Linked DNA regions of Homo sapiens. The protein of the gene in region 2 purifies or fractionates together with the protein of the main gene of each other region. This does not show direct contact. Each region holds a gene or a part of one and is shown on either strand. Other genes may lie near its edges.

Region 1 (3,817 bases), on a different chromosome or scaffold from region 2:
CCCACCTTGGCATCTTCTCCTCCAACAGGGAGGAAGACCTCCAGCCATCTTCTGCAGCCAGCTTTTCTGTCTGATTCAAGAGCCGGGGTGAGGCTGGGGCCATGGAATTGAAGATAGGTCTCTCTGCAGGCAGTGGGTGGGGTCTCAGCAGCTCAGAGCCAGGCCTAAGGGACACCAGGATTGGGTCTGGAAGGGAAGCAGAGCCATGTGAGGACGGGGTGCCCACGGGAAGATGGGCATATGGGGCACCAATGACACAGGCAGGCATGCAGAGACACTCAGAGCCATGCAGACCCATGCAACATGTGTGGGAAATACAGCTACCTGTGGACAGGCCCAAACCCACAGAGCAGGGCTAACAGATACAAATACCCACGTGTGCCACCCTCAGAGTGAAGCTTGGTTTGTAGGAACAGCACGGTGCGTGCACTGAAGCAGCCCCCAAACACTTCAAACTCACATGAGACCTTGCCCTTGCTTTGTAAGGACAGTCCCACCCACACTGCACCCCACCATCTACCAAGTTCATTAGTTCTCTCACCACCTCCAGAAAGCAGGGGAGGCTGGCATCATGGCTACAGATGAGGAAACTGAGGCCCAGGGAGCAAAACCTACTTAAGGTTATCCAAAACTAGGACTCGGCCCTGGTCCGCTGCCCCCCAAGGCAGAGGCTCTTCCAGTACACCAGGAGGCCCGCTCAGCCACTGGGGTGGGGGTGAAGGAAGTTTGTGGGGGTGGAAGGGAGAGGGAGCAGCTGGGGTGACTGCTTCTGCTGGGCTGGCCCCCGTGTTGGCAGGAGCGGGAGAGTGGCTCAGGACAGGCAGAGTGGGCAGAGGGACCTGGGTGGGGGTTGCTGCCTGGAGGGCTTCTTGGGTCAAGAAGAATTGCAAAAGGCCAGGCCCAGTGGCTCGCACCTGTAATCCCAGCACTTCGGGAGGCCGAGGCAGGTGGATCACTTGAGGTCAAGAGTTTGAGACCAGCCTGGCCAACATGGCAAAACCCCCATCTCTACTAAAAATACGAAAAATTAGCTGGGCATGGTGGCACGTGCCTGTAGTCCCAGCTACTCAGGAGGCTGAGGCATGAGAATCACTTGAACCTGGGGGTGGGGTGGAGGTTGCAGTGAGCTGAGATTGTACCACTGCACTCCAGCCTGGGCAACAAAGCGAGACTCTGTCTCAAAAAAAAAAAAAAAAAAAAAAAAAAAAGAATTGCAGAGGTAGGGGTGGGGAACAGGGACAGGGAGTCTGGCTGAGGTGGTCCAGGCACCCCACATAGCCCCAGAGTGTAAAGAAGCTTTCCGTGGGGCAAAGTCCCTTGAGTTGGAGTTTTCTGAGCTCTTGGGTCAAGCCCCCTGACTTTCTGGACCTGTATGTGACCATGCTACCCACTGGGGACTGAAGGTCAAGGGCATGGCTTCTGAGGTCATGAGAGAAGAAAAATCCAGGCCCAACCCCTCTCAATTGCTTGGGGCCACTGGGCACGCCATGTTCCTGTCACATTTGCCTGGGCCTCTTCTCTGCCTTCCTCACCTCGATTCATCCCGCTGAGCCACTCCTGGGCCGTCAGGGAGGGCTGGGCCCCTGCTGTTGGAGGGTATATGTCCTCTTGGTAGGATTCTGACTGCAGGAGAAATCCAGACAGTGAGGAGGGTGGTAGGGTAGGCTGCTCAGATGGGAAAGGCCCTTAGACCTGGGAGTCCAGGCTCTCACCAACCCCTGCTGAATTGAGGAAACTGAGGCCCAGAGAACAAAGGGACTTGCCCGAGGTCACGCAGCAGCTCAAGAACAGAGGTGGACCGAGACCCAGGACTCCTGACGCCCACTGATGTCACACTGGCTGTGAGAAAGGCCGCTCTGTGGCTGCCCCATGAACGTGGGCTCCAGGCTCTGGTGCCCGACAGCCCTGGGTCTGTCTTCTCCAGGACAGGTTCCCCACCTGCCTCCCATGCGGTCCCGACTGCCCTTACCCGCCGGGGCACAATCATGGAGATGGGCTCGATGAGGCTTTTGGTTGTGATCAGCTTGTAGAAGCGGAAGATCTCGCAGGAGGACACGTCGAGTCCTCTCTTTGGCATGACACCTGAAGGCAGACAGGGAGGGCCAAGAGGTTCTGGCTAGGCTGGGGCCACAGTGTTAGGGCCAAAGCCAGGCTGCACACCTGGACCTGAACAGAGACCAGTCTCCTCCCAGAAAACAGCTCAGGGACAAATACCGACACTGGGCTGGGCCCTATGTTGGGAAATGGAGTTGAATTAATCAGACTCTTCACCTTCAAAGATTTAAATTATTTTAGCTGAATTTTTTTCTTTTTGACACAAGGTCTCACTCTGTTGCCCAGGCTGGAGTGCAGTGGCACAATCATAGCTCACCGCAGTCTCACACTCCTGGGCTCAAGCGATCCTCCTGCCTTAGCGTCCCAAGTAGCTGGGACCACAGGTATGCACCTCAATTTTTTTATTTATTTGTAGAGACAGGAGTCTCACTTTGTTGCCCAGGCTAGGCTCGAATTCCTAGGCTCAAGTGATCCTCCAGCTTTGGCCTCCCAAAGTGCTGGATTAGCTGAACTTTTATAGGCAGTTTGCTCTGCTTAAGGTTCCCCATCTCCATCCCCACAGCTCCTGTGACCCAAATGCTCTTAATCAAACCGCTCCAGATTCCTTTTGAGTAGGGTTAGCAGGGTGCATCTTTCTCCAGTCCCTTACTTTTAATCTAGCCATGTCTTTATGTTTAAAGTGGGTTTCTTGTAGATTACAGAAATATAGCTGTGTTTTTAATCCTCAAGCACACTTAGAAAGGAACTGAGGACTGCTTCCTAGAGGCTCTTCTAGGTCAGCCCTTTCCATCTCTGCTCTTGTGGTAACTGCTTAACCTTGACCTAGAACACATCCCTCTCTCCCCTGCTGGGCTCTGCTTCCTCTTTCAGTTCCTCCAATGTTGCCTCCTCTGAGAAGCCTTCCCTGACTTCCTCCTTTGTGCTGTTGCACACGTCAAGTACAGCCCCCACCAAGTCAGAGTGTTGCTATGCTGTCTCTCCTCCCATCTGACTCATCCCTGTCTCCCCAGACCCCGCACTGAAGCCCTGACCCTGATTCTCCCACCTCGGCCTCCCGAAGTGCTGGGATTACAGGCATGAACTTCAGTGTCCCTCACTTACCGATCCCCTTCTGTGGGTTATAGGAGCGGTACTCAGTCAGGTAGCTCAGGTGAGGCTTGTCGGCGCTCACCTCGTAGTAGCGGATGTTGCCATCTCCCTGAGGAGGAGGAGAAGGAAGAGGAGGGTGAGATTCAGAGCTGGAGCTCATCAGCTCATCAGCAACCCAGCCATGCAGCAAAGACCTGGCTTTTTTTGATGATCGGCAAACCCATCTCACTCAAGGGAACACCAGGAAACTGGGGGCCCTGTCATCAAGGCAGGAGGGTGATGAGGGGATATTCATTTTATTTTAGATTTTATCTTATTTTTTTGAGACAGGGTCTCACTTTATTGCCCAGGCTGGAGAGCAGTAGTGCAATCACAGCTCATTGCAACCTCCTGGTCTCAAGCCATCTTCCCGCCTCAGCCTCCCGAGTAGGTGGGACCACAGGTGTGTGCCACCACGCCTGGCTAATTTTTTATTTTTTCATTTTCGTAGACATGGGGTCTCACTATGCTGCCCAGGCTGGCCTTGAACTCCTGGGCTCAAGTGATTCTCCCACCTTGGCCTCCCAAAGTGCTGGAATTATAGGCATGAGCCACTGTGCTGGGCCTGGGCCCTTATTTTAATATTCAATCCTCCCCCACCATGACCCAAAGCCCACCCTTTTTCCTCTAAGAC
Region 2 (3,817 bases):
GCCTTGGCCTCCCAAAGTGCTGGGATTACAGGAGTGAGCCACCGTGCCCTGCCATAAAGCCACTATTGTTTTGATTCTGTGTTACAACGACCAAGCCTATATCTTGATAGACAAGGGACAAGTATCAAGCAAATACCTACAGAGAACATGATCAAGAGTACAGGTCATCAACAAGGCTGACAATATGAAGTGTCAGCAAGTATGTGGAGAAGCTGGACCCCTCAGCTACTGCTGGTGGGAATGTAAAATGGAACAGCCACAGTTTGGCAGTTTCTGAAAATTAAACACATACCTGCCATATGACCCAACAATTCCACTCCTCAGTATCTATTGAAGAGAAATGAAAACGTGTCCACATAAAGACTTATACATGAATGTTCATAGCAGCATTATACATAATAGCCCAAACCCAGAAATAATCCAAATGACCATCAGCTGGGGAATGGACATAAAAATTGTGGTATATCCATAAAATGGAATACTACTCAACAATAACAATGAACGAGTTACAACAACATAGATGAGTCTCCAAAAAAAAACAAATAAATAAAAAATCCAGACACGTAAGATGACCACATATGTATAATTACATTTATGTTAAATTTCTAGAAAAGACAAAACTATAGAGATAGGAAACAGATCAGTGGTTGCCTAGGAGGTTGGATAGGAGTGACTGCACACAGGCACAAGGGAATTCTTTTGGGTGATGGAAATGTCCTAAATATTTCCACTGTGGTGATACTCACAAAATTGTGTACATTACATTGACTGAATTCCGTTGAACCAGAAACTTAAAATAGATGAATTTTATGTCATGTAAATTATACCTCAATAAAGCTGTTAAAAAATAGAGTATAGGTGAGCTACTGGTAGTGAAATAACATCACCACTAGTTTTTAGTCATGGGCACGGCTACATTGTCTTCTTATGAAGCTCTTACTGCATCAGAGAACAAGATGAATTGTGAAATATTATGAATGAATGGAAAACATGATAGTATTTGAGTTACAGAATCTACCAGAGCAGCATATATTACACTGTCTACAGCTGAGACAGGGAAAATGCTCTTGATTCATGTGGAATGACCTAGGCAACACATTTTTTGTTTTAGAATAGTTTGAGGCTTATGGTCTGATATCTTTATGATGAATGTGGTAGATAGTCTTCAAAAATGGCCCCCAATGAACTATGCCTCCCAGAATTTATGCCCTTTTGTAACCTTTCTGCTGGTGTTGTGACTTGCTTTTGACCAATAGAATGTTTCAGAAATGATGCCAAGGGCTTCTGAGATCACAAGAAGTATTGTAGTTTCTGCTTTGGTTTCTTGGGACAAAAACACTGGCAGGGGATTGGGGTAGTCAGGTACTATGGAGGAAGTCTGACTACCTGAGGCTTCCATACTGTGAGGAAGCCCAAGCTAACCACATGAGAGAGAGAGGGAGGGACAGAGGGATGGAGATTGAGTGAGAGTGATGAGTGGCGAGCCCCTAGCTGTTCCAGTTACCCCAGCCCAGGCTTTGCATATTTGAGAGAAGTCATTTTGAACATCCAGCCCAGTTGAGCCTTCAGTTGACTCCAGCCCTTGCTGATGTTTGATGGCAGCCACATGGAAGAGCTCAAATGAGACCTACCCAGTGGGGACCGTGAATCCACAGATTCATGTTTTAAGGCACTACCTTTGGGGTGGTTTGTTACATAGCAGTAAATAGCCCAAAAGGAAGGAGGTCAGGAAAGACTATAGAAATTACATTTGATTTCTTCAATTTGAAATACAATAAATTTAGTAGCTAGACTAAGGCACTTTAATAAAATCATCTTGTTAGCCACTTTTTAAAAAATCTTTGTGTAACACAGACTTTTTCCTTTCTTAATAATAATTTTCAGAGACTGCAGACAGAGTGGCATTGTGACAAAGGTGTTTCACGTAGACTATGAACCACCAAATATAGTCTCTCCTGAAGACAATGTTGAAAATGTTCTCAAAGATTCTTCAAGGCAGGCAAGTAATGAAACTATAATCCATTCAGATTGTCACTGTATTTTGGTTCCTTCTTTCTCAGTGAGCAGATCTTGCCTTTTATTACCTTACCTCTGCTCACAGTCAGGTCCTTATAACTGAAGTCATTATCAACCATTGCAAAGCATCTTTACTGATTTCTCAGCCTTTTGTCAGTCTCCTATCCACCCTGAAGATGAGAGTTCCTGCTGAGCATTGGGGTCCATGCTCCAGTGTCTTCAGTGGCTCTCTCTTACCTACTGAAAAAACCAGAAACCTTTAGCCTTCCATCCAAGTCATCAGTTTCTGCCCTTGGTCAGCTTTTCCTGGTCTGTCAACCCCCTACATATACTCCAACCAAACTGGAGTGTGTTTGCTATGCCCTATCACTGCTATCCTGGCACCCAGGCCTTCTTTTATAAACTGCTTTGAGCATGTGATTACTTTGTTCCTTGTTTATCTTGCCTATGCATTATAAGCTCCAAGGTGGCATGGTTGCCATACTCATTGCCTTGCACAGGAGCAGGCAGGAGAGGGTGGTGAGTGTGTATTTGCTGAATAGATGCATTAAGTAGAAGTCCTCAGTGGGCATAGAATTCTTTTATGTTGAAATCTTTATTCCCAAATATCTGCAAAGCCTCCCCACTGTGAAGAGTCAATTAGATCCATCTGAGAAGGATGTGTGACGCTTCAGGCACTGGGTGTGAGCATCGATAAGAAAGATTCAAGGAGTTAGGCCAGAGGATGGGCTAGCCTACAGTAAGGCGGCCAACCCAGAGGTCTTGGTCACAGGGATGTTGTTGGGATTGACAGAGGAAGTTTATAGGGGTTTCACTTAAGCTTGACCATGAACCTGATGCTAGAGAGGAGGTTGGTAGATGCAGGCATGGGTGGGACTCAAGTGTGATCAAGGCAAGGATCTACACTGGGCAGGGGCCGCCTTCGGGGGCTAAGCCAACATATGTCAGCAAGTGCTTAGGCTTGAATCAGGTGTGAGGGACCAAGTCCATGGAGAAAGTCCAGAGAGAAGAGTGTTTAAGGACTGTGTGTGGGCAGGTGGTGTGCAGAAGTCTGATTTTGGTCTGACTCTACCCTGCCTTTGCCCTCTGGACTTGGTGGTCCCTCTGTTGTTACCCAGACTCCCACAGTTGTAACATCCTGCCTGCATGTGCTGCTCCCTGCCTCCTGCCTTGGCCACTTCACCTGGTGAGGGCTACATCCAGATGTGCTGCCAGCTGAGCAGCCCAGTCCAGATACAAAGCTGCATGTTTCCAGAATAAAGTGAAACAGGGGTCACTTTGTACAAATGACCATAAACTCTTTCAAATAAGAAATGCACACCATGACACTTTCTCTATCATGCAGCTTTAATTCTCACATGGGAATAACCAAGTGATTGATATGCAATCTCTTCATTCCTAGGAATTCAAAAATGGATTTGTTGGATCAAAACTAAAGAAAAAATATAAGAACTCTGAAAATCAACGCAGCTGGAATGTTAACCTTAGAAAGTTTCCAGGTATGATGTGACAGAACAAAGACAAGGTTTTGTATTCTGAACCCACCGAAGAGGTTCATGGCATGTTCGTTGCATGTTTTCTTGTCTGGAGAAGTGTTGGAATAAGAAACACTGGGGCAGGAAAGTATGCTGTACTTTGAATTTTAATGACGTCCTTGCTTACAGCTTAAGATCATGAAGGAGGATCAAGCAGTCCAACCAAGTTAGATTTCTTGACCCACTGCCGGGAGCCATGGGGGCATCTAACCAAACAGAGGAAATGCTGGAGTTGTAGGGTTTGGGGGAAGGGTGGAGTTTGGGTG

The links.
Region 1: the proteins of DZANK1 (region 2) and CORO2A purify together in Homo sapiens (affinity purification with mass spectrometry; one large-scale study listed by BioGRID and IntAct). This does not show direct contact.

Annotation. Positions count from the first base shown.
Region 1 is NC_000009.12:98,126,638-98,130,454, forward strand, and holds part of CORO2A (coronin-2A), read right to left. Parts: intron 3,254-3,817; coding exon 3,157-3,253; intron 2,083-3,156; coding exon 1,970-2,082; intron 1,624-1,969; coding exon 1,533-1,623; intron 187-1,532; coding exon 1-186.
Region 2 is NC_000020.11:18,453,429-18,457,245, reverse strand, and holds part of DZANK1 (double zinc ribbon and ankyrin repeat-containing protein 1), read left to right. Parts: intron 1-1,884; coding exon 1,885-1,999; intron 2,000-3,418; coding exon 3,419-3,515; intron 3,516-3,817. UniProt on the Homo sapiens protein: Involved in vesicle transport in photoreceptor cells.